Linked DNA regions of Homo sapiens. The protein of the gene in region 5 purifies or fractionates together with the protein of the main gene of each other region. This does not show direct contact. Each region holds a gene or a part of one and is shown on either strand. Other genes may lie near its edges. The genes, in order: RAD23B, PPM1B, HSD17B4, ANXA5 and TRIM59.

Evidence for each region.
Region 1: the proteins of TRIM59 (region 5) and RAD23B purify together in Homo sapiens (affinity purification with mass spectrometry, with the first as the bait; one large-scale study listed by BioGRID). This does not show direct contact.
Region 2: the proteins of TRIM59 (region 5) and PPM1B purify together in Homo sapiens (affinity purification with western blotting, with the first as the bait; one study listed by BioGRID). This does not show direct contact.
Region 3: the proteins of TRIM59 (region 5) and HSD17B4 purify together in Homo sapiens (affinity purification with mass spectrometry; one large-scale study listed by BioGRID and IntAct). This does not show direct contact.
Region 4: the proteins of TRIM59 (region 5) and ANXA5 purify together in Homo sapiens (affinity purification with mass spectrometry, with the first as the bait; one large-scale study listed by BioGRID). This does not show direct contact.

What each region holds. Positions count from the first base shown.
Region 1 is NC_000009.12:107,327,112-107,332,287, forward strand, and holds the end of RAD23B (UV excision repair protein RAD23 homolog B), read left to right. Parts: intron 1-2,431; coding exon 2,432-2,545; 3' UTR 2,546-5,078; downstream 5,079-5,176. UniProt on the Homo sapiens protein: Multiubiquitin chain receptor involved in modulation of proteasomal degradation. Binds to polyubiquitin chains.
Region 2 is NC_000002.12:44,174,173-44,180,643, forward strand, and holds part of PPM1B (protein phosphatase 1B), read left to right. Parts: intron 1-6,471.
Region 3 is NC_000005.10:119,496,808-119,501,575, forward strand, and holds part of HSD17B4 (peroxisomal multifunctional enzyme type 2), read left to right. Parts: intron 1-2,509; coding exon 2,510-2,746; intron 2,747-4,768. UniProt on the Homo sapiens protein: Bifunctional enzyme acting on the peroxisomal fatty acid beta-oxidation pathway.
Region 4 is NC_000004.12:121,674,993-121,681,463, reverse strand, and holds part of ANXA5 (annexin A5), read left to right. Parts: intron 1-655; coding exon of another isoform or gene 656-708; exon of another isoform or gene 709-2,969; coding exon 2,970-3,049; intron 3,050-3,513; coding exon 3,514-3,570; intron 3,571-6,471. UniProt on the Homo sapiens protein: This protein is an anticoagulant protein that acts as an indirect inhibitor of the thromboplastin-specific complex, which is involved in the blood coagulation cascade.
Region 5 is NC_000003.12:160,439,787-160,443,286, reverse strand, and holds part of TRIM59 (tripartite motif-containing protein 59), read left to right. Parts: intron 1-3,500. UniProt on the Homo sapiens protein: E3 ubiquitin ligase involved in different processes such as development and immune response. Serves as a negative regulator for innate immune signaling pathways by suppressing RLR-induced activation of IRF3/7 and NF-kappa-B via interaction with adapter ECSIT.

The DNA.
Region 1 (5,176 bases), on a different chromosome or scaffold from region 5:
TTTGAGTCCTAAGATATTTTTGTTTTTTCCCTTCAGTTTAGCTAAAGGTTTTAATTTTGTTCATTTTGTGGTGGTTGTTGTTAATGACAAAAATAACTTTGGGTTTTGTTGATTCTCCCTATTGTTTTTCTAGTCTTTTGTTTTGTTTTGTTTTAAGTCTCTCTAATGTTTATTTCCCTCTTGCTTGCTTCTAGTTTGTTCTTCCTTTTTTAGGTTAGGTTTAGTTTAGTTCTTTGTTTAGTTTTAGTTTAAGATTAAATTATTATCTATCTTTGTTAGCATAGATGTTTATAGCTATAATATTCCTTCTGCGTTTATGCTATAGTAGCATCCCATAAGTTTTAGTATGTTGTATTTTTGCTTTCTTTCATCTCAAAATGTTTTTTAATTTCCCATTTGGTTTCTAATTTAATTCATTCGTTATTTAGGATTGTGTTAATTTCCACAAGTTTATGAATTTCCCACATTTTCTCCTTTCGATTTCTAAATTCATTCCATTATAATCAGAGAATATACTTTCAATACTTTTCAACTTATTGAGGTTCGTTTTGTGGCCTAACATGGTATTTCTGAAGAATGTTCTATGTATACTGAAGAAGAATATAGTGTAGTTCTTATTAAGTGGTCTATAAATATCTGATAGATCTAGTTTGTAGTCAAGTCTTCTTCCTTAGCTGTTTTATCTATTATTGAAGGTGGAGCTGTAGTTGTCTCTATTATTGTTAATTGCCAATTTCTACCTTTAATTCTCAGTTTTTATTTTATGTATTTTGTGGCTCTGTTATATATAATTGTTGTGTCTTCCTGAACCCTTTTTATCATAAAATGCCTTTTGTCTATAGTAACAATTTTTATCTTAAATCTGTTTCCTCTGATATAGCCATTCTAGCTCTTTTTTGGTTACCATTTGCATAGTATATACCTTTTTCTATCATTTTACTTTCAACCTACTTGTGTCTTTGAATCTAAATTGTGTGTTTTGTAGAAGCAGGCAGTTGGATTGTACCCTTTACTTCACCTATCCTAGCTTTAATCTGGATAAAACCCAGATAACAAACTGATTTTTTAGTTTCTTCTGCTTTCATAGATGAATAGTTATTCGTGATGAATTGGGATTTTTGCCCAAATTTTAAGGGTTATTTCCAAATATAATCTGACACAGCAGTCTTTAACCTTTTTGGCACCAGGGACCAGTTACGTAGAAGACCTTTTTTTCTACCAACATAGGTGGGGTGGGCGCAGTGATTTTGGGATGAAACTGTTCCACCTCCGATCATCAGGCGTTAGTTAGGTTAGGAAGTGGGGTGGGGCGGTGGTTTTGGGATGAAACTGTTTCATCTCACATCATCAGGCATTTGTTAGGCTATCATACGGAGCACAGACCCTAGATCCCTCTCATGCACAGTTCACAGTAGGGTTCATGCTCATATGAGAATCTAATGCCGCCACTGATACAACAGGAGACGGAGCTCAGGTGGTAATTCGAGTGATGGGGAGTGGCTGTAAATACAGATGAAGCTTCACTTGTTCGCCCACTGCTCACCTCCTCCCGTGCGGCCCAGTTCCTTGCTCACCCACTGCTCACCTGCTCCTGGGCAGCCCAGTTCCTAACAGGCCAATGGCTGGTGCCAGTTCACGGTCTTGGGGTTTGGGACCTGTGATCTAACTCAAGGTGATTGAGACAATTGAGGAGGGTGACATTTGGCTGAGTTTTTAAAGGCTTTTAAAAGGAGTGAGTATTGTCACAAGTGATTTTTAATATAATAGACTAGGAAAATGAAATTAAGTAGCTGGTATTACCATTTAAAATGCTGTAACTGTTAAGCAGATAAAAATAGAACATTATCTTCAAAATGTACCATGTATTACTAATAATTGGTCACCTGTTTTTCTAGTATGGAGTGTTGAATAAAGCAAGGAGATTGAGAGTGATGTTTGATCCAAATGAAAGACATGAGTTGACATTAATAAATAAAACATAATTTGCTTTTAATTTAGAAATAGGTGAGGTGGTTAAACTATACTGCAGGTACTCTCATCCTTATCTTCACTCTTAATATACTAAAAGCCATTTGATTTACATATTTCTGTAGAGTCATTTATTTTTAAACCATAGCAGTTAGCAGCTAATTTTTAATTAGGCCAAAGAGTATTTGCATAGTATCTATTAAGCTTTAACTAGAAACAAAGACTTTTTTAGGTGATTAGTAAAGGAAAGGGTCTAGATTCCATCTAATCCCTTGGGTTGGGCAGTAAATCCATATTGATAGAGATGAATTCATGTAAAATTCTCAAGAGCTTTTTTGGGTTGCAGTATGTTTTTGAGTAATGATTTATCTTTAGTGCTATGCTGGAATCTATAATATGTAAATAAAATTAAATGTGCCATAATTGGTGTGTTGGATTTATATTTTTTTCCTTTTTCTTCCAGTTAAAGGCATTAGGATTTCCTGAAGGACTTGTGATACAAGCGTATTTTGCTTGTGAGAAGAATGAGAATTTGGCTGCCAATTTTCTTCTACAGCAGAACTTTGATGAAGATTGAAAGGGACTTTTTTATATCTCACACTTCACACCAGTGCATTACACTAACTTGTTCACTGGATTGTCTGGGATGACTTGGGCTCATATCCACAATACTTGGTATAAGGTAGTAGATTGTTGGGGGTGGGGAGGGAGGGATCTAGGATACAGGGCAGGGATAAATACAGTGCATGTCTGCTTCAATTAGCAGATGCCGCAACTCCACACAGTGTGTAAAATATATACAACCAAAAATCAGCTTTTGCAGGTCTTTATTTCTTCTGTAAAACAGTAGGTAACTTTTCCTAGGTTTCACTCTTTTTAGTGTACTAGATCCAGAAACTTAGTGTAATGCCCTGCTTTATATTTCTTTGACTTAACATTGGTTTCAGAAAGAATCTTAGCTACCTAGAATTTACAGTCTCTGTTTCATGGCAACACTGGATAATGGCTTTGTGAAATTTAAAAAATTTTTGTAGCGACTGTAAACAGAAATGCCAAATTGATGGTTAATTGTTGCTGCTTCAAAAATAAGTATAAAATTAATATGTAAGGAAGCCCATTCTTTCATGTTAAATACTTGGGGTGGGAGGGGAGAAAGGGAACCTTTTCTTAAAATGAAAATAATTACTGCTATTTTAAAATTTCTTGATCATTGAATGTGAGACCCTTCTAACATGATTTGAGAAGCTGTACAAGTATAGGCAGAGTTATTTTCCTGTTTACATTTTTTTTTTGTTTTGGGGAAAAAATTGGTAGGTGTCTAATTACTGTTTACTTCATTGTTATATTGCAGTAAAAGTTTTAAAACAACCATTGCATGTTTGCTTTTGATGTATCCCTTTGTGAAATTAGCACTTTTGGGGCCAATGGAGAAATGCAGCATTCACTCTCCCTGTCTTTTCCCCTTCCCTCAGCAGAAACGTGTTTATCAGCAAGTCGTGAGTCAAACTGCTGCCTTTTAAAAAACCCACAAAATGCTGATTCAGTTCAAAATTAATGCAAATGTTTCAAAACTGGGTTTCTGATATTTGTAAATGTGTTTCTTTATTAGATAAGAGTGTATTACCATTAAAGTCATTAGTATAATATTGCTTTCAAAAAGAAATGGTAGACAAAACTATAATCCAGCATCTTTTATTGCATTGGAAAGACTGGCAAAGTCTTTTGGATGGGTTGGGAGATGTGGCTGGAAAGTACTTTGGAAAATATACAATCAAGATATCTCATGGCATATTAAAAGAAAAATCTTAATAGCAGTGTTGGCTTTTATTTGGATTTTTTCATCTCAGTTTTTTCTGTGGAATCTCCTTCATTGGCATTGTTATTTAATCATAAACGGGGCAGATGTCTACTTGTTCAGTTTTTCAAATCTGTTTTCCTGAGTATAAATAAGAGTATTTAAAGAAATAATTTGGATTGCTTTTGTTTTTTGTTTCCTTTTTTTTAACCATCTGATACTAAGAAGATGAATTTGCACAGATTTCTCTGCATAATTTCTCAATATCTTTAGCACAGTATGGTGATGATGACTTTTAAGCATTTACATCACGTACTCATAACCTATTATGAAAATAAATGAAACTGGCTGGGTATGGTGGCTCATGCCTATAATCCCAGCACTTTGGGAGGCCGAGGTGGGCAGATCACTTGAGGCCAGGAGATTGAGACCAGCCTGACCGTCATGGCGAAACCCCGTCTATACTAAAAATACAAAAAATAGCCAGGCATGGTGGCGCACGCCTGTGGTCCCAGCTACTTGGGAGGCTGAGGCATGAGAATTGCTTGAACCCGGGAAGTGAAGGTTGCCGTGAGCTGAGATCACACCACTGCCATAAACATGACAGGCTTTTGGACTTTGTATTACCTGTATGTTTTATAATGGATCATGCATAATTTCTCAGGAGAATAAAATGAGAATTCATATATACGTTCATCTTTCAAGTCAGAGCAATGAGTTGGGAAAAGAGGTGGCATTTCTGATCGGATAATGGAATACTCTCATTTATTTTATGACATTCTCTGTCTACTCAGATCATAGTGAAAACTGGAAACAAAAAAAAAAAACAGCCTCTTCTTGGAAAGTGACAGCAGAAGGTGGCATGGAGCTTGTGTCCTTGGACAACAAATCTGGATATACTAGGATTAATTATCAGAAGACAGCTCAGGCCAAGTTTTGATCGTTCCATACAGTACCTTGTTTATCTGCTTCTTAAAGAATCAGCCGAGACACCATAAAAGAAATAGGCTTTTTGTGCCTTTTGCTGTTAATGTTTAATTTACAAACTGTTTTGGTAAATCTCTTAATGTAAGTAGCTATTTGACTTTGGAATTTTGCATTCGAGGTATACTGTCATTTCTTGAAATCTTTTTCTCGTTTAGTTGCTCTGTGGGAAATGTGAGGAAGCCTAAGTTTGTATTTGTAAATTTCTTATGCCATCCTCTAGTCAAATTTTTTTTCATTGTTTAAAAATACGGAAGTGTTCCAATATAATTTTTTCCTGTACTGGATGGCTAGGATTCTAGAGAATTGATTATAAAATATTTTCAATACATCCAACATTGCACTTCTCATTTTTTAAATGATTCTGTCACGTAGAATCAGAATTGAAAGTTGACAATGCTTCTGTCACTGATACTTCTTTTTACTTCA
Region 2 (6,471 bases), on a different chromosome or scaffold from region 5:
TCATCAGTATTCTATTTTTTAGCTTTAAATTGATTCATTTCTTGAAAATTAAAAATCTTAAAGTTTAGAAACATAACACTTCTTGGAAAATTGTTTTGCATCCTTGTGAACAAAAGAAGATCCAGTTAAATCCGATCTCATACTTAGAGGAGACAGACAAACTTTGGAAGCCATGTATTGACTATTAAGGAACTTGTCTTTCTCTTAGAGATGGTACCAATTACTGGTAGTGATATAGGGAGGATAAGACTTGTCTCTAGGATTGCTGTGATTATTGTCTACGTAGAATGGCCTTCACTTCAGAATCAGTTGTGAATGAAAAGTACATTTGTGTGCTAGAAATAGGAAAAAACCTTGTCTTTTATAGAAAACTTTTAAAATGCAGTTATGTTATCAGGTAGATTCAAACGTATAATATACAAGAAAATAAAACAAATGAATAAGTGTTGTTTGCCAGAGAAGAAGCAGTTCTGATCAATAATATGTAGAGTAATTTGTAAGAGTTTGAAGGCTTGCGAAGCGCTTTTAAGCCTGAGAGTAATGTCAACTCATTTTTAAATCTAATCGCATTTTATTTTCTTGATTGTAGGTATCAAGAGCACTCCTCGCATTGAAAAGGGCTGGTTACTGGATGTTCTTATGAGTAGGAGAATCTAGAAGTGTCAGCATGGGTGTTTAACCTATTTGGGCAGTGTTTTTCCTTTTCCTTGTTCTGACTAAAGCATTTATCTCTGAGGTGGGGAAATGGCATTTTCTGTTGAACACAGGTGGCCTTTCTTAGTCCCTTAAAAAGAGGACATGACTGGGCCTGGTGGCTCACGCCTATAATCCTAGCACTTTGGGAGGCCGAGGTGGGCGGATTGTCTGAGCTCAGGAGTTCGAGACCAGCCTGGCAGCACGGTGAAACCCCATCTCTACTAAAATACAGAAAATTAGCTGGGTGTGGCGGCATGTGCCTGTAATCCTAGCTACTCAGGAGGCTGAGACAGGAGAATCGCTTGAACCCAGGAGGTGGAGGTTCAACCCAGCTGAAATCGCGCCACTGCATTCCAGCCTGGGCAAAAGTGAGACTCCGTCTCAAAAAAAACAAAAGTGGGGGTGGGGGAACATAATTAATTCAAAGCACTCCAAATGTTAAGATTATATAGGAGATTTTGTTGAGCTTTGGGAGGCTTTCTGCTTTTATTTACTCTGAGCTACCAACCCACTGAGAAGTAAAGAATTCAGAACAGTCTAATAGTATTTAGTCTGTAACCCTCCAGCCAATTCTTATGTTCACTGAGTGCCTTCTGTGTGCAAAGGCCCCCATTTCATGCCAGTATCTGAACAAAACAGACAAAATCCCAAATCCTTGTCGTTGACGATCTTGCATTCTGTTAACCAGCAACTCACAGTTTACATTACAGCTGAACTCCTTATGTGGCTGGCTTAAAAACTTGAGTGGAAGATTTGGGGTGTGTGTGTTTTGTACACTAAACTTAAAAGCTGTGATTAGAGCTTTACTATTTTTAACAAAAGGAAAGGAAGAGGTTTTCTGTAATTGGATAAAAACTAGACTGAAAAGAGGAAAGAGGAAATATTGTTGTGCCTTAGAGAAAGACATTGGTTTGAGATTTTTTTTTTTTTTTTTTGAGACGGAGTCTCACTCTGTCACCCAGGCTGGAGTGCAGTGGTATGATCTCGGCTCACTGCAACCTCCGCCTCCCAGGTTCAGACAATTCTCCTGCCTCAGTCTCCCGAGTAGCTGGGATCACAGGCATGCACCACCACACCTGGCTAATTTTTGTACTTTTAGTAGAGATGGGGTTTCACTATGTTGGTCATGCTGGTCTGGAACTCCTGACCTCATGATCCACCTGCCTCGGCCTCCCCAAGTGCTGGGATTACAGGCGTGAGTCACCATGCCCTGCCTGGTTTAAGATTAAAAGATGACCCAAAGAGAGAAAAAGAGATCCCTGCATTAGACAGACATGAGGGAAATTTGGGGCCTTCAGGTGTTTCCATTTACTGTACATCCTTGGATAGATGAGTTCCTGGAAAGGAGGATGGGAGTAAAGGTGGAACAATAGGAGAAGGGTGAACAGGATTTTTTAAGTCTGATTTAAATAATTGGGATATACCTATAAAATATATGTTGTCATTTATGTTTAAAAAGCTTTCTGTTCTTACGTGAGTATAGCTGAAGGATTAGTGGTTGACCAATAGTGCCTGGTACTGATTTGTAATGGCTACTTTTGTGCTCTTAGCAAAGATGGCTAATGGAGCCAATTTGTCTCTTGGTTTATTGTGCACAACTTGGTCTATATATTTATCACTGCTTCTCCTTCCATAGCTTTGTTGTATTACTTAACGTCGTGCCTTTGTTTTTTCTGCATGTGAGATGGGCGTATTGCACTTAGATGTGTGAAGCAGGTGCTTAATTTTTGCTTTCTGTTCTTTCTATTGCTTTCCTACTGAACCAGTTTGGTAAAGAGGCCTCTTCTTCAGTTTATACAAACATTGCAAACTTAAGCATAAAAGATCTTTCATCTTTTTGTTCTTATTTTAATGCTTGGTGGTCTTGTGCTTTCATTTATGAGTCAGTTTCATTTGATCTTCATTGCTAAAGTGAATCAAGATTGATTTTTTTAATTTTAAAGCAAATCAACCAACTGGCTGGGGTGCAGTGGTGCAATCTCGGCTCATTGCAGCCGCCACCTCCCAGTTCAAGCGATTCTCCTGCCTCAGCCTCCCAAGTAGCTGGGATTACAGGCCTGCGGCACCACGCCCAGCTAATTTTGTATTTTTCGTAGAGACGGGGTTTCACCATGTTGGCCAAGCTGGTCTCAAACTCCTGACCTCAGGTGATCTGCCCGCCTCAGCCTTCCAAAGTGCTGGGATTACAGGCATGAGCCACCGTGCCCGGCCTAGTTTCATTTTTAATGTATTTTTGTAATTCTGTTACTTTATCAAAATGCTGATATGCAAGAGAACTTGAAATTTTGGAATATATTAAATTTAGTACTGTAATTCAGACCAGATTCATTAAGTTGTTCAACATTTGGCCATCTATCTTAGATTTAAAAATAACCAAAAACAACCTTACTTGAATTTAAAAAAATTATCTCTTGTAACTGGTTTTGTTTATATAATCTAACATTTTATTAAGTCTTTGGTGGTTGCTAGTCCTAAACTTAAGGAAATTGAGTTTGTTTCTATTCATCTGTTCTGGAGTGTTTGGAATTGCAATGTGAAAGTGAAATAACCTTTTTTTTTTTTTTTTTGAGACGGAGTTTTGCTCTTGTTGCCCAGGCTGGAGTGTAGTGGCATGATCTCGGCTCACTGCAGCCTCCGCCTTCAGGTTTTAAGTAATTCTCCTGTCTCAGCCTCGTGAGTAGCTGAGATTACAGGCACGTGCCACCACGCTCAGCTAATTTTTGTATTTTTAGTAGAGACAGGGGTCTCACCATGTTGGCCAGGCTGGTCTCGAACTCCTGACCTCAAGATCTGCCCGCCTCGGCCTCCCAAAGTGCTGGGATTACAGACATGAGCCACCGCGCCCGGCCTACATGTATGTATTTCTAAATAGCATATAGTACTGTTTTAAGAGGTGTATGTACATGACCATATACAGAATTTTTTTTTTTTTTACAATTTGTTCTTGTCACTTAATATTTTTGCAGTTCTTTTTTTGTTCTAGTCCCTTTTTTCCATAGTATTGCATATATATTGCATAGTATTCCATTGTATGATTAGAACAGTTCTTTTTTTTTTTTTTTTTTTAATAAGACAGTCCGGCTCTGTTGCTCAGGCAAGAGTGCAGTGGCTCAATCTTGGCTCACTGCAGCCTTGCCCTCCCAGGCTCCAGTGATCCTCCCACCTCAGCCTCCCAAATACCTGGAACTACAGGCGTGCACCAACACATCTGGCTAATTTTTGTGTTTTTTTTGTAGAGATGAGGTTTCACCATGCTGCCCAGGCTGGCCTCTAATCCCTGAGCTCAAGTGATCCACCTCCTTTGGCCTCCTAAAGTGTTGTGATTACAGGCGTGAGCCACCACAGGCAGCTAGAACACATTTTGTCTAGTCTTTTTTGGAAGGACATTTGGATTATTTTTGTAATTTTAATCAATGGTCTAAAACCATTTACATGCCATATATATATGCGAGAATTTCTCTAGGGAGTAAAATGGCTGAACTGTAGGCCATCCTTATCTTATAGCCCTAACTAGATATTTCCAAAATTCTCTCCAATGTTGCTATACTAATTTATACTCCTACCAGTGGTGTATTTTATATATGTATATATATATATATATATATATTTTTTTTTTTAGACAGAGTTTCGCTCTTGTCACCCAGGCTGGAGTGCAATGATGCAATCTTGGCTCATTGCAACCTCCACTTCCTGGGTTCAAGCGATACTCCTGTTTCAGCCTCCTGAAGTAGCTGGGATTACAGGCACCTGCCACCACACCCAGCTAATTTTTTTGTATTTTTAGTAGAGATGGGGTTTCACCATGTTGGCCAGGGTGGTCTGAACTCCTGACCTCAGGTGATCCTCCCGCCATGGCCTCCCAAAGTGCTGGGATTACAGGCATGAGCCACCATGCCCAGCCAAAAGTTTCTGTTGTTTTAATTTAGTGCTGTCCTATATAAATGTAAGGTAATTTAAATTTTTCTAGTAGCCACATTAATAAAAAAGACATAGGCAAAGTTAATTTTAGTAATGTATTTTATTTAATCCAGTATTTCCAAAATGATTCAATATATAAACAATGAAGTTAATTAGATATTTTGCATTCTTTTAAAAAATATTAAATGGTGTGATTGGGCTGTGTCCCCACCCAAGTCTCATCTTGAATTCCCAGGTGTTCTGAGAGGGACCCCATGGGAGGTAATTGAATCATGGGGACAGGTCTTTCCTGTGCTGTTCTCATGATAATGAGTAAGTCTCATGAGATCTGATGGTTTTATAATGGAGAGCTTCCCTACACAAGCTCTCTCTTTGCCTGCTGCCATCTATGTAAGATGTGACCTGCTTCTCCTTGCCTTCAGCAGTGATCATGAGGCCTCCCTGGCCACATAGAACTGAAAGTCCATTAAACCTCTCTTTCTTTTGTAAATTGCACAGTCTTGGGTATGTCTTTATCTGCAGTGTGAAAAAGTACTAATAAATTAAATATTTAAAATCCATTGTGTATTTTACACTTACAGCAAATCTCTATTAGCATTAGCCTCATTTAACATTCCTACTAGCCCCGAGTGGTTAGTGGCTACTATACCAAACAGCAAAGCTCTGTGTTCTTGTCTGTGTTTGATATTGAGAGTCTCTCTCTCTCTCTTTTTTTTAATCTAAGGAGAGAGAAATGGTGTTTTATTTTGACTTTAATTTTCCATCTTCCTATTAGTTTTCCTAATGACAAAATCTTACAGGCATAAATATGGAATTACTTTGCCGTTGGAATGCAGGTGTTTATTTTGTTAATTGTGTTTAAGAGTTTTTAGATATTAGATATTAGATTTAGATGTTAGTGTGTCTATAAAATGATGGTGCTAATTAAAGACTTTAACCTGGCCGGGCATGGTGGCTCATGCCTGTAATCCCAGCACTTTGGGAGGCCGAGGCGGGTGGATCACCTGAGGTCAGAAGTTCAAGACCAGCCTGGTCAACATGGTGAAACTCCGTCTCTACTAAATATACAAAAATTAGCCAGGTGTGGTGGTGGGTGCCTGTAATCCCAGCTACTCAGGAGGCTGAGGCAGGAGAATCGCTTGAACCCGGGAGGCAGAGGTTGCAGTGAGCCGAGATCCTACCATTGCACCACAGCCTGGGCAACAAGAGCGAAACTTCGTTCCAAAAAAAAAAAAAAAAAAAGACTTTAACCTCAAGTCAACTCTTAAAATATTCCCCAAAATGTGTATTTGGATTGAAATGAATGCTTGGAAGGACAGTACTTGAATGGCAATAATAGGGGTAGGAACAAGGCAATTGCTTAATACTTAAGGGAAACAATCCTTTGTATGTATTTCTTTTCCTTCATATATTTCTCCCTTTGTTTTGCTTAATCTTGATCTTTCTTTCCTCACTTAGGAAGAGTTGGCTGAATGGATCTGATCTAGAGCCAAAGATGTTCTCAAAAAGGGCTACAGGGATAGACTGACTTTGGGAGTTGGGGATACTCTATGCCCATCATCAGGAAACAAACCAAGTAATATAAATTCATTAGTGTGTCGTCTGTCCACAGTAAGTAGGTGTAATTGGCTAGGTGATTTAAATGAATCAGCAGAAATAAAATTGCTGGAAATCAAGGACTGCTTGTACTTAGTAAATGTTGCAGTGGATAATAGAGGTTAATCAGCATTCCAATAGATTTTTAGGTCTCTGCCAATTTAATATTTCTGGGAATGTTGAAAAATTTAACTAGGACATTCTTTCTTGAAGAAGGATCTTTTTAAATTACTTTTGTTTTTTTTTGAGATGGTGTCTCAC
Region 3 (4,768 bases), on a different chromosome or scaffold from region 5:
TAAAATAGAGGATTTATTCAGGAATCGTTTATGATTGACTTTATAACATACAGCCTGATTTCAACATACAGAGTATTCAGGACAGTTGAGCCACATGAAGAGATGGCTCAGGATGAATTCTAACACTGTCCAGAGTACTTTATTTGTCTTTTTAGTTTCTCCTTTTCCCTCTCTTAGATTTCTCTGGACTGTACCCTGCATTTCTTTTCCCTAATGGGAAAGGAGATCAGAGCGATTGGGTATCAGTTTCCAAGGTTTTGCCTAGTAGCCGAGTGGGGCTTGGAGAATGGAGGTAACCCACTCAGCTTCTTCTCCTGGTTGGAAACAGAGCTGCTGAAAGCTTATCATGAACTTTTTAGAGGGATACTCCTTACTTGCATATAATTTTTGGTAGGCTCCATTGGGGGGTGTGATGAATCAGGTTAGCTGCCTGAGTGGTGCTTTAGCCAACCTCATTTTTACCCCCTGCAATGCTGTTTGGAAATTGACTCAGGGAGGTACTGAATGGAAGAGGAAAAAAGGGAGTAGTACCTCAACTGTTGATAAAATGAACTGTGGCTAAACTGATATCTAGTCCAGATATGTATGCCTGCCTGGACTGTCTGTCTTCCATATACAGTTCTCATTCTACCCGTTCATAGTTCTTTATCTCTTTAAGGATAGCTTTAAATTGACTTTAAGTAGATTTGAGTTGTGTGGGAATTTGTATTTGGGAGGGGAGACTATGACACCATGACTTCTGGAGGTTATATGCTCCCAGGTTCTTTGTTGTGTTTTTTACCCCTTTACCTAATGCCCATAAGGCTTTAAACCTCTATGTTGAAAGTGAAGTGCCTATAATCAGCAAAATTTTGTTTGAAATGTAAATAATTTTGAAACTTTTTTCACATACAAAAAAATTATTTTCTAAGCTATTTATTGCTAAATGAGTGATGATAAAACTGTATAAAATATGTACTAAATATTGATAGAATTTGAACATAAGCTCAGATATTAAACTTTTGCTTTTTCTTTTTCAGTACCATTAGATTTCTGTATCTAACTGTATGACAAGTATCATTTTTTTTTCTTGACCATCAGTAATCCTACTTTAGTAACATTTTCTGACTCTTTAGAAAAGGATATCTAGTTTAGTGCTCTTTTGGGTCCGTTTCTTTTAAGGGAAGCATCGATATTGTATTTTAGAACTATTTCAACATGGCTGCAAGTAAAATGCTTCCCATTGAGTCAGAAATTCGAGAACAATTGTGATAGCTCATGTGAAATTTGCCTATTTACTGTTCCTGTTTGTATTCTTTCTTAAAAAAACTGTACTGGATAAATAGGAAGAAGTAAATCATATGCCATATTAGATTCTGTTGTTTTGTAACCTATGGTAGGCATTGTGATAAAGAAAATTAAAATTCTAATTTTAAGCCTGAGAATGTGGTCAGTATAGAAATGTGATTTTTCCTCAAAATAAGGGTTGGCAAACCTTTTTGATGAAGGGCCATATAGTAAATATTTTAGGCTCTGTGGGCTACATAGTGCTTCTATTCTAGTACATATTCTTTCTCTTTTTCTTATTTTTAATCAACCTGTATAAACCATTTTAGCTCTTAGTCCTTGTTTGCCAACTTCTACTTTAGAATAAAAATGATTGAAAAATTGGACATTATTCTTTTATATGTACTTCACTTATTAGCTACGCATATTATCACTAAGTAGAAAAAGACAACATCCAGTTAGACAAAGGATATTCCTGGGAAGGAAATTCAAGTTAATTTTATTTTACTTAACATTATGAGGGACTGGGCGCAGTGGCTCACGCCTGTAATCCCAGCACTTTGGGAGGCCGAGGTGGGTGGATCACGAGGTCAGGAGTTCCAGACCATCCTGGCCAACATGGTGAAACCCTGTCTCTACTGAAAATATAAAAAAAAATTAGCCAGGCATGGTGGCACGGGCCTGTAGTCCCAGCTACTCGGGAAGCTGAGGCAGGAGAATTGCATGAACCTGAGAGGCAGAGGTTGCAGTGAGCCAAGATCATGCCACTGCACTCCAGCTTGGGCGAGAGAGCGAGACTCCATCTCAAAACAAACAAACAGAAACCATTATGAGGCAATCAAATTTACATCCATTAAGCAGTGTTTTACTCATCTGTTTACAGTGAACTTTATACATTAGATCTTACAAGCAATTTACTATCCTTAATAACAAATTCATTATTTTTTGGATTTTTGGGTAGCTAATAGTTGCTGAATTAGAGACAGGAAAGTTGAGTATGAGGCATACTGTCTGTTAGCAAGAAGCAAGCAATAAAAAACTTCTTAACTGTAAATGAAGTCCTTTTCTACACATTACCTAATTAGTTTCTATTAAAAAATAAAATATAATTGCAATAATTATGCTCCATCAAATTCACTAACATTCTAGTCACATCTATTCAAAAACAAAACTAGGTATGTAAGAAGTTAATAGTTTTGAAAAGTTATCAATGAAATAAATTACTTTTTAAAACTGTTCTTAGGCTGGAGCTATTGGCCAGAAACTCCCTCCATTTTCTTATGCTTATACGGAACTGGAAGCTATTATGTATGCCCTTGGAGTGGGAGCGTCAATCAAGGATCCAAAAGATTTGAAATTTATTTATGAAGGAAGTTCTGATTTCTCCTGTTTGCCCACCTTCGGAGTTATCATAGGTCAGAAATCTATGATGGGTGGAGGATTAGCAGAAATTCCTGGACTTTCAATCAACTTTGCAAAGGTATGCCTAATAAAAAACCTTTATTTTGCTTTTCTATTTCTGTAAATATTATTCATTAATGTCATATCTTATATATATGTGTGTGTAGTGTGTGTATATATATTTATATAATTATTTATAGTGGTTAGTTTAGCATATCTTTTGATTTTTCTTTTTAAGAATAAAAGAGGGGAGAGTTAGTTCAAAATGCCAGCAAAAAGAAGAAAATAACAAGTATGTGTAGTCCCATAACCCTGGCATAATGTTATTCTCTCTCTGCCATTTACTTGATTCTTGACCAAGGGTAAATAACATCTCTAGGCTTCAGTTTCCTTATCTATAAAATGGATATGATAATCCTCACCTCATGACATTGGTGAAGAAGCAAGCCAGGGAGGAGTATTTAAAGCAAATAGCACATACTTGACTTGTTTTTGGAACAGTAATAGGGCCAGCATAGCTGTAGAGTGAGCAAGGGGGCAATGGTAGGAGAAGGTCATGGAGTAATTGTAAAGATTTCAGCATATACTTTGATGAACATGTGAAGCCATTTGTTGATCTGAGCTGAGTAGTGACATGATCTGGCTATGTTCACAGACTGGTACAAGCTTGTTGCTTTTGGAGACTAGGTTATAAGGGAGTCAAGCATGAAAGCAGAGAAACCACTTAAGAGTCTATTATAGTAATCCAAGTAAAAGTGCTGCATATGAGGGTTAGAAAAGAGGAGTCAAGGATGAAGATGTTTGTTCTGGATAATTGGGATATGTATATATATATAGAGAGAGAGATGGGTGCATATATATACATTGTATATAGTTATACATTGTATATAGTTATACATTACACATATCTATATGTAATGTATAATTATGTATAGTGTATTTAATATGTATAGTAATTACATATGGCATTATGTATAATTTATACATACACATTTATTTTAAGGTGGGGTTGATCAGGAGTTGGTTTTAAATATGTTTGAGGTGTCTGTTACACATTTAAGTGGAAATATAAGATGGACAGTTGAATATATGAGTCTAGAGTTCAGGGAGGGGTCTAACTGGGTCCTTAGCATTTACGTGATGTTTAAATACTGGAGATTAGATGAAGTCACCTAATGTGTGAGAGTAAGTAGAGAAGAGGCCTGAGTTTAGAGGCCCTGAAATGTTGAGAGGGTAAAGAGATACAGAGGAACTAGCAAAAAGAGACTGCACAGGAATGGTTGGTGAGGTATGAGGAGTATCATGAGAATAGGGTATTTGAGAAGCCAAATGAATGAAGTGTGTCAAGAAGGAGGAGGGAACAGTGGTGAGAAGTTCTTTGAGACAGGGTATATTTTATTTCTTGGAGTAAGATTCAGGTTATGAGCCTGGTAATAATTTTTGAATCATGGGGCTATGAGCTGGTATCTGTAACTTTGACTGATTGGAGAACTTATTTACTGGTGGATCAGTTAGCCCATTGCTGCTCTGAGTTGATGGCCACTTATTTTATTAGAGTGTTTCATGAAGTTGGGAGGAAGACAAGAAATATGTGCTGGGCAGTTTGCTGTTTCATTCACACTCCCATGGTTAGTTACTATATACTCTGAACAATGTAAATGCAAAAAATTAAAACAAATGTTTCAAAATTCCCCCTAACAATTGGAAATCGTAAATGGTGTTCATGCATCTTGGAACTTGAATCCTAGTCTTCTTAACCTTGACTTTTTCAAGCCGTATGACACAGTAAAGCTGACCTTCATTTGTCTTCTCATCAACCACCTCCCCTTCTTCTTCTTCCTTTTTTTTTTTTTTTAAAATCCTTTTGGGTTCTGAGGAAGACTGGTAAACTGGCCCTCTGCAGTGAAAGTGGGATCATTTGAGTGTATGCTTCAAGTTTTGGTTTTCCTGTCCTGTTGTTTTCCTATATACCTTGGTGCATTCTTTGTTTGATACATTGAGGTTAAGTGGCTATTAAGTTACACAGTGTCCTTAGTATCTACTCTTTGTAGATAATTTACAAAGTATTATAAGAAAGGGATATTCACATTGACAGTGCTTT
Region 4 (6,471 bases), on a different chromosome or scaffold from region 5:
ATAAGAAGCTACTGCTGAAGATGGAGTTTACTTTTGCATAGGATTTGCAATTAGTGTAGGGATATACAGGTTGTCTTTATGTTAACATTAAGGTAAAAATGGTTTTTCCTCCTTTAAAAATATTTAGCTTTATGCTAGCAAAATTTAGGAGTTATATAAAAAGTACTTTTGGAACTTTGGAAGAGAAACCTAAACCCTTTCCCACATCAGAGTTGATAAAGTACATTTGAGTAAATGTATGTTGTCTTAGCTAATGGCAGTGCTTGAATAAAATATTCTGCATTTTGATTTTTCTTTTTAGTGTGTCTTTTATATGAACAGAAATCTGCATTTCGGCCTAAAATATGTCTCATGAATAGAATCAAGAAAATGAAGTAAAAAGTAGAGGTAGAGAGTCCTTTTCTTACCAGATTTCTTGTAGCCAACTCTTTCTCCTGCCTGACTGAGGAGGGTCAGACTATCCAGTTTCTCAGCTCAGTCAACAGACTCCAAGCCTAGTGTCTTTTGCTAGGGGCTGTATCTTGCCATTAGTTTGTTAATCTTAGAAATGGCTTTGTTAACCCAGCAAGTCAAAACAGCAAAAAATTGTTTAGAGCAACTGTATAATTACCTTTCTAAAGGGCTGAATCTCTCTTTCCTGCTTCTCTTTTTATAGGCAGTAAGTTCCCAACCGCTAAGGCAGAAGTGATACATGTATCTCAACTTTGAACTTTATTTGATGTACTATTCAAAGATCTCTTTCTGGGGATGTTGACGTTGATGAGAGCCTTTGTGCTACTGGATTACAAATGGTGTGCTCAAAGGGGGTAATAACTGTGTGGTCTGTCCTACTCAGCCGTGTAATTGAGCACTGGCTATGTGTCTGGCAGTGTGTTAACAGGCTGTCATGAGTGACAAAAGGTGTGCATAACACAGCTCCTGTCCTCAAGCAGTTTGTGTGCAGTCTCCTCAGTGGGTGACATGACAGAATGACTGCAATATTTAAAGGATAATGAAATTCAAACTAAAGTAAAATACCAATGATGTTAAATGCAATAATGCATTCAGAAGAGAGAGGTCATCATAGCTTTGGATGTTAGGGAGGCTTCATGGTACAAATCACACATGCAGCAGAGTTTCAAGACTAGGTGGGTTTACAAAGTGTCCATTGACAGATGAATAGATAAAGAATACGTACACACACACACACAAACACAGACACACACACACAGGAGTACTGTTCAGTCTTAAAGAGGGGAAATCCTGTCATTTCAACATCATGGATAAACGTGGAGGACATAATGCAAAGTGAAATAAGCTAGGCACAAGGCATAAGCTATGCATGATCTCACTTCTTATGTTGAATCTAAAAAAATTGAACTCATAGAAACAGATAGTAAAACAGTGTTTGCTAGGGTGTAGGGGTGGGGTGAATGGGAGAAGGGACTGGTGAAATATTGGTCAAAGCATACACGATTTTAGTTAGGCAGGATGAATAAGTTCTGGGGATCTCATGAACAGCGTGGTGACTATAGTGAAAGTATAACTATTATATGCTTGAAATTTGTGAATACAGTATATTTTAAATGTCCTCACCACACACAAAAATATAGACTATATGAAGTGATGGATATGCTGATTAACTTGATTGTGGTAATCATTTCACAACGTACACATATATGAAAACATCATGGTGTATACCTTAAATATATACAATTTTTATTTGTCCATCATAACTCAATAAAGCTGGGAAAAAAAGACTAGGTGCATTTTGAGTAGGTAGAAAAGATATTTTTGGGTGAGGTACTGCCTGTCTTTAATGGCATGGAGACTGGACTGTGGAGAGTGTATTGAGGGACGGAGAGGGCCTGGCTGCTGTGGAGGATGTGTGCATGTCCATTGTGGGAGGTAAATGGAACAAGCGAGGTTAGGCTCAGATATAGATGGTTTTGCATGACTGGATTAGGAATTTGGACTTAATTCACAGGCACTGTAAATTCCTGAATGAGCAGTGGAGTGCTGAAGGAACAATTGAGGGAGGAAGGAGATTTGAATTGAGAGGCTAATTGGATAGTTATGTGTGTGGGAGGTAAGCTAGGTATTTAGGAATTGTGGCCCAACCTAGGTGAGTGAGAGGTGTGAGGAGGATAAATCAGGGACAGGAGAAACGTGATAGGATTTAATGGTTAATATTTACAGGTGTTGGTGTAGAAGAAAGAATTAAAGATTCCTACAAGGTTTTGTATTTGGGTAACTTGTTGAAATAAACATGTAACTCTTCTGGGCCTTTTAAAATAGAAGTTTCAGGCTTTTAAAGTTCGTTTGCTTTTGCATAATAATTAAATATTTAAATACCTTAGAGTAAGGCCTCCTTTCCTTTAATAGCATCTGTTTGAGAGTAGTGAGAAAGACTTGTAGACTCTTGTAGATCCCAGTTCTCCCCTTTTATATGGGCTTACATTGAGCAGCTGGAAATAGAGGTGGGAGGGGGGCCTACTTTAAAATATCATTGCTGTCTCTCAAGAGTTAACTTTATTTCTGCAGAGGAAAAATACCTTATTAGGAGTGATGGCCATGCCCAAAGAAATAAATCTCAGAATATTAGAGATAGAAGACATTTGGAAGCTAACCATATAAAAGATTTGAAAGAAAGCAAAACAGAGTTTAAGCTTATGATTGATTGTGTTTTGGAGACTTTCCAGTACCATCATGTATCTATAGATTAATGACTACATTGGTCGAGAGAATTTCTAAATGGCTGAGTCTTGATTTAAGTTTGAATTGAGTGCCTTTGGGAGACTTTAATTCATTTTTGTCCAACCACTCACTGAAAGCATTTGCTTAGAGCATTCAGAGATGGAATAGAGGGAATTTATGTTAACCAAATATAATTATTTCTTCTTTTACATCGCTTTCATTTGATTAATGGGGCAAGATTACTTTTCTAGTTGAAAGAAGATGTAAATAAGTATGAAATTATTTTGTTGCAGAATATGGCTCAAGCCTGGAAGATGACGTGGTGGGGGACACTTCAGGGTACTACCAGCGGATGTTGGTGGTTCTCCTTCAGGTATTGCGTGGAGATTAATTACAGTTTGATTAAAAAGCCTGAAGTTGGACTGGGCTGAATCTAGTTAAGTAAGGTCACTTAAAATTCTTTTAATAATTTGTGGTACTTGCTGATTCTTACTGCGATGATTCTGACTGTATGTTGCCTGTGCTTGTTTGTGTTTCAGAATATCTGGTCTAAATTCTTAACAGCTAACTCATACATGTTTTAGATAGTAGTATCTTGTTCCTTTCATAGAATGATAGCGGTATCTTGTTCTTTCATAGAATTTAAAATCAGTAGGGTCATTATTGGTTTTGGACAGTGCTGGGTGATGATAACGTGAAATAGTGCAGGATTGATCTTAATAAAAGCATATTATTCCTAGAGAAAGAGTGTTATTGAATAACCATCAGGTGGAACCATTTTTCCTTTTGAATGAGAATGCTCTATAGTTCAGTAATGTGACATATTACCTCTCATAGGCTAACAGAGACCCTGATGCTGGAATTGATGAAGCTCAAGTTGAACAAGATGCTCAGGTGAGTGACACCAGGATATGATGACTTTATTATGCTGTAGAAATGAAGAAATAATTCATGGTAATGAAAAATCACAATGTATGTTGTAATAGCTTCTAGTGATAATCTTGTTAATGGGTTATTTACATAGCATAAGACCTACATAAGTAGCTTTTTCTTATTCTGACCTGGTCAGCAAAATATTTTACCTTAAAGCTGAAACGAAATAAAATAAATTATATAGTGAGTTCCAACTAGACATGTTTTTTTTTGTGATTATTGAACATTCACAAAATAGAGAATTTTACCAAAAAACAGTGTTATTACTTCCACTGCCAATTATGCAGTGGGTCTCTTAGCAGGAGAAGATAAAGAAGAAAGAATAAAGTATTTAACAGTAAGTGGTGTTTAATTACATAAGAGATGACAAGTTATTTTGGTATTAGGAAATTTCTCTGCATTTCCTTCGACAGAATTTTAAGTAGGATTGGTCTTCTGTCAGCAGCTTTTTAGTGACTCCAAATGAAAATTTCCTCTTAAGTGACTTATAAACCCCTATAAAGTCTCAGTCTGGTTAATAAAACAGTTATTAAAATATAGGAAAGGAAATTTGAAACATGAGAGCTGAAAACTGGAAATTGGTAATAAAGGAATTACTTGGGTTCCTAGAACCACCAATCATAGACCTCTTTCTGGTCACATGTTTCAATTAAGAGAATATACAATTCTTGGTTGTTTGTCATGTATCATTGAAAAAGGAAGAGCCATATTCATTCCTCCAGTGGAACAACCCATGGATATGCGATCTCACTTTGCTAACAGGAAAGAGGAGAGCGGTTATTCTTTTGGGTAGGTTGATTTTATAATGGTTTCAGAATGCTGTCATCTCTGTCTAGCTGGAGAGAAAAAAAGAACTGAATGTTTACCGAGGGCTCTCTGTGCAGTATTTGACTCTTGCTTCACTCTGTCTTAGAAAATGCAAGCCAATTGTGTCCAGCCCCTTCAGACTCTGGTGGTTCCATTGCCCTCAGGATAAAGTCCGGGTTCCTGAATGGGTTACAAGCCCCTTTGTTATCTGTGTGTTGTTTACTTATGCCTCCAGCCTCTCTCACATGCTCTCTCTGCCCTCTTGCCCCTCCCACCCCGCTTCACCTGAGTCCTCTTCAAGAGTCAGTCTTCAGCTTAGATACTTTAGAGTTAGGTGCCCCTCACAGGGAAAACCATACCCCCCCCCGCCCCCAGGCTTCCTGTCACAGTTCTTGCCACGTTCTCTGGAAGCCATCTATTTACTTCACTGCCTTCCTGGGCCCCCTGAGCTGTCAGTTCAATTGTATCCTCAGCTTCTGGCATAGAGTAGGTGCTCAGTAAATAACTGATGAATGAATGAGCACATAACTCTACCAGAAAGGGGCAATTTCCCTTTTATGGATAAAGAAACAAACCCATGGCTTCCACTGAATAGCAGTGGAGTTGGAATTCCTAACGAGGCCTGTCTGACTCCAAAGCTCTTTCTCTTTCACTAGAAGATAGTCAGTGTTATTGAATATTAATATTTCACTATAAGAATATTTCACTGTAAGATATTCAGTGTTCTTGAGTATTAGTGCCTTCCCTGATTTTCTCTATCATTAAAGGGCTTATTAAATATCAACTCAAGCATAGATCTAGCTTAATTCCACCTTCTTTCGGGAAGAGGGCTAGAGCAACCCTACAGAGTTGTACTCCTGTTAGGGGCTTTGTTCAGTACTGAGGTGATCTTACTGCTTTCCAAGCATTGGTTGTGGCTTTGCTAGGAGATAGTGCTGATTCTCTCATTCCTACTGTCAAGAGTAGGATAGGAGTTCTGGGAGCTTTTCAGGGTCACAGTGTAAGAAACCAACTCTAGTCCTCTCAGATGTCTGCAGTGAGGCCTGCATTCACAGGCAGAGGGCAGATTTCCCAGCATAGTTGGTGATGTAATGAGAGCATTGCTGCAGCACGAGGCTCCTGAGGGGAAAACAGTACATTTTAACCTTGTTTTCATTGATTTCTGTCCTTGGAGCACTTACTGGATAGCACTGCTGCTCAAACTTTCATGGGCATGTGGCGCACCTGGGACCTTTAATTGCAGATTCTGATTCTATGGGTCTGGGCAGGGGCTGGGAGTCTGGATTTTGAACATGCTCTCAGGTAATGCCTGCATTCTTGGTCCTTTGATTACTGAGGCTGTATAGGTGACACTTACGTGTCATGCAGTGGATATAACCATTCAGAACCCTGAGAGTACATGTGAGACTGTACATGTGAAAACTGCTTTATGGAGTTACTTTAAAGTATCCCTTGAATGGAATCCAAGCTTTTCTTAGCCTTCCAGTGACTAGGAGCAATACAGAACATGTTACACTGGCTATTATTTTTGATTCTTTCAAATGTATTATTATTAATTAATAAACCTGTTGAAAACAAATAATCTTTTGGCATTATAAAAAGGAACACACCAACTTGTACCTCGTAGCAAGGGCAGCTGGACTGTTATCACTAGTGAGAATTTGAGATTTCTTAATTGAGAGTAAGCTGAGACAGCTAAAGGGCTCTTTTATAAGCTTTTGCATTTTTGTCTCTACTGATACCTGGCACTAAGAAGATTTCTATTATTTGAGAGGTTTGATAAGCCATAGTGAGTCATTCACTTGGGAACTGAACGTTTTGTAGATAATCCACTTTTTAACATTTTTAATGTGTTAAATTGATTTAATACTTTTAATGCATTAAAACAGATTTACCTTCTTCCCCAGTAAATCCTTGTTTTATTCTTTCTCTGGAGGGAGAGTTGAACTCTTAGAGGAAAGAGGGAGAAGGAGAAGTAATCAGGCACTTTTTACTTTTACTGGGCATTTGCTACTGATTACCTGACACTGTTCAGTGCATTATCTTAGTTATATA
Region 5 (3,500 bases):
AGATGTTCATCCTAGAAAATATACATAGGTTAATTTTTTGTTCTTTTTCTTCCTTTCAGAAGCCTAGACTGGTTGTGGAAAATTTCTGCTGCATAAAATTTCATATTGGTTTCTGAAAGAACTAGCCTGTAAGCATGGTAGCCACCTGTATCTTTTTTTTTTCTAAAAAAGGCAGGGTCTTGCTCTGTTGCCTAGGCTGGAGTGCAGTGGCACAGTCGTGGCTCACTGCAGCCTCAACTTCTTGGGCTCAAGTGATCCTCCTGCCTCAGCTCCCCGCGTAGCTGGGATTATAGGCGTGTATCACTGTGCCTGACTAATGTTTAATTTTTTGTAGAGAATGGGGGTCTCTTGGTGTTGCCCAGGTTGGTCTTGAACTCCTGGCTTCAAGTGATCTTCCCACCTTGGCCTCCCAAAGTGCTGGAATTACAGGTGTGAACCACTGCACCTGGCCCACCTATATAGTTTACTTCTCAGGCAGCAACCAGAGTCAGAAAGTTCCTGACCTTACAAAGTTATTTTTCAGTTCTAGTTTCTCTTGAATTTGTTGCCTAAAATTAGTTTTTAATCAATAAATCAGTGAGAAAAGGGTAGTCTGAGAATAGATTTTGACTTCTGTGAACTTCAAGTTATCCACAAATTTTTGTCTAAAAAGTATTATTAAAAATTTTACATATGATAGCAGTAACTTTGAGACCAACCACGATTTTTGCTTCCTATTTTTTTTTTTTCCTTTTTTTGAGACAGAGTCTTGCTCTGTTGCCCTGGCTGGAGTGCAGTTGCGCCATTTCATGCCTCAGCTTCCCGAGTAGCTGGGATTATAGGGATTACAGGTGTGCGCCACCATGCCTGGCTAATTTTTGTATTTTTAGTAGATACAGGGTTTCACCATGTTGGCCAGGCTGGTCTCAAACTCCTTGCCTCAAGTGATCCACCTGCTTTGGCCTGCTTCCATTTTATATAAGCTTAGGATATGCTTTACAATGTCATGAATATTCTCATTCTAAAGAAAGTTGAGCTTTTGGGCCCCTAAGTGCATTCTCAGAGTTGTTCCCTAGTTTTCTGCAAGCATAGAATAGGGGTTTGGATAGAAAAGTTAGATTCTGTTTTAGGACTAGTTTTGCTACTTAAACAATTGAATAGCTCCAGTAATATTAAATCTAGATTAAATGTACGTCGACTGCTCAAATTTTATTTCCTACAAAGTGTTATTCTGTTTATTCCTTCAATGTGAATTCTGACATCACTGAAATACTCTGAAAAACACATTTGTTTTTCTTGGGTGGTTTCTGTATGACTTCATAGCTTTCTGTAGGTGTAGGGTAAAGTTGTAAAGTCTTGCCAGCATGCACTCACTTGAATTTATCTGCAGTGAATGTCATCTTCTTTACTGTTGCTCAATTACTTTAATTTGCTGGAATGCTCTACAGTTCAAGCTTAGTCTCTGTGTGACACACTTTGGCTCATTCGGGATCTGAATATTGTCAGTTTGAATGGAGTGCTTTTTTTCTTTTTTCTTTTTTTTTTTTTTTTTTTGAGATGGAGTCTCACTCTGTTGCCCAGGCTGGTGTGCAGTGGTGTGAACTTGGCTCACTGCAAGCTCTGCCTCCCGGGTTGACGCCATTCTCCTGCCTTAGCCTCCCAAGTGGCTGGGACTACAGGCGCCCACCACCACACCTGGCTAATTTTTTTGTATTTTTAGTAGAGACGGGGTTTCACCCTGTTAGGCAGGATGGTCTCAATCACCTGACCTCATGATTCACCCACCTCGGCCTCCCAAAGTGCGGAGATTACAGGCGTGAGCCCCCGCACCTGGCCTGAATGGAGTATTTTCTGATAGATTTTCGTTTTACACCTTTTCCTAAGCAGAGATTTTGCTATTAAAAAAACAAAAAACAAAAAACCCCAAAACAAAAATCTGTATTAACACAGGTCTCTGAAAAGGCATTTGTTCATTGAAGCAGTAACAAGTGAATGCCTGCAGTGTTAAAATTTGTGCCTAAATTGCAGGAATATAACCATTGTTTAGACACAATTCCTGCCCTTATAGGAGGCCTACATTCTAATGTATACAGAAAAGTTACAAAATTCTTAAATAAAATCTTGTTAAAGTGCTATGAAGTAAAAATGCAGTGTTTAATGAGAATAACAGGGGACCTAATCTGGGGAAAAGGCAGGCTCAAGTTGAGCCTTGAAGGAAGAGTTAAGAGTTTGACAGATCGTAAAGATAAGGAGCCAAGTTTGCATTTTATTAAAAATGCAGTTAGTTACTTTTAGTTGCTGTTTTCACAGATTTTTAATCTTAAAAGTTAGTTTTATAGCATGTGATTTGGTAACCTTTATATTTTACGTGAATGGCACTTGGGTGTTTATTTTTTTTGAGACGGAGTTTCGCTCTTGTTGTCCAGATGAGTGCGGTGGTGTAATCTTGGCTCACTGCAACCGCCACCTACTGAGTTCAAGCAATTCTCCTGTCTCAGCCTCCCAAGTAGCTGGGATTACACGCATTTGACACCACACTGGGCTAATTTTGTATTTTTAGTAGAGATGGAGTTTCTCCATGTTGGTCAGGCTGGTCTCAAACTCCCAACCTCAGGTGATCCGCCCGCCTCGGCCTCCCAAAGTGCTGGGATTATATGCGTGAACCACTGCGCCTGGCCATGGCACTTGGGTTTTTAAGTTTTGCCTAAGGTACTTTCAACAGTGGTATAACTTGATTTTTCTCTATCAAGGGGTAAGCTAGTCTTTAGAATTGTGGCTGATGCATTGAGGGTAGGTATAAAGGAAAGCAGTAGGAGGTGGTAGGGTGCAAAATGGTCAGGCTTCTGTTACTGGAAATATCAGTAGTAGCTTGCCAAGAGGTCAAGTTACTTGTGTCAGAGATGGTCTCTGAACTATCGCTACGTTTCTTTTTCTGTCTCAGAGAAATACGGATCGAGAGACTTTCATGAAGGAAAGATGACTAATGGTCTTCTTTTTGTTCTTTACCATTTAGTGCTCTAGTTTTTCACTTAAAAATTAATTCACAGTTACTATAGTCAACTCTTATCTTTCAAACTGATTTTTATTATAAGAATTAATTCAAAATTTTTCTGTCTTCTAAATCTGCAAGTTAAAATTATTGCTTTAGAGAATTATACTATGCTGATCCTGGGGTTTAAGCGTTCTTGTATTCTAATTTGAGAAGCTAAAAAATTTATGGTAGTAACAGTTACTGTGGAGAAATTTGATAGCTTGCTTTAGAAACCATTATTGAGCCAACTGGGACATGTTTCCTCCTTTTGTGTTAAAGAATATACTTTTGCTAAGCCTAACTTGTTGTAATAGAAATAGTCTTGTCTACTCATTATATGTGCTTGGTTTTGATTTTATCATCTTAAATGTTAAAATGTTGCACAAAATAGTTGTAATCACTAAGTAGACTTTAACAGAACACTTTGAATTTTAGTCTTTATTATGTAGTGTATTAGTCTGTTTTCATGCTGCTGATAAAGACATACCTG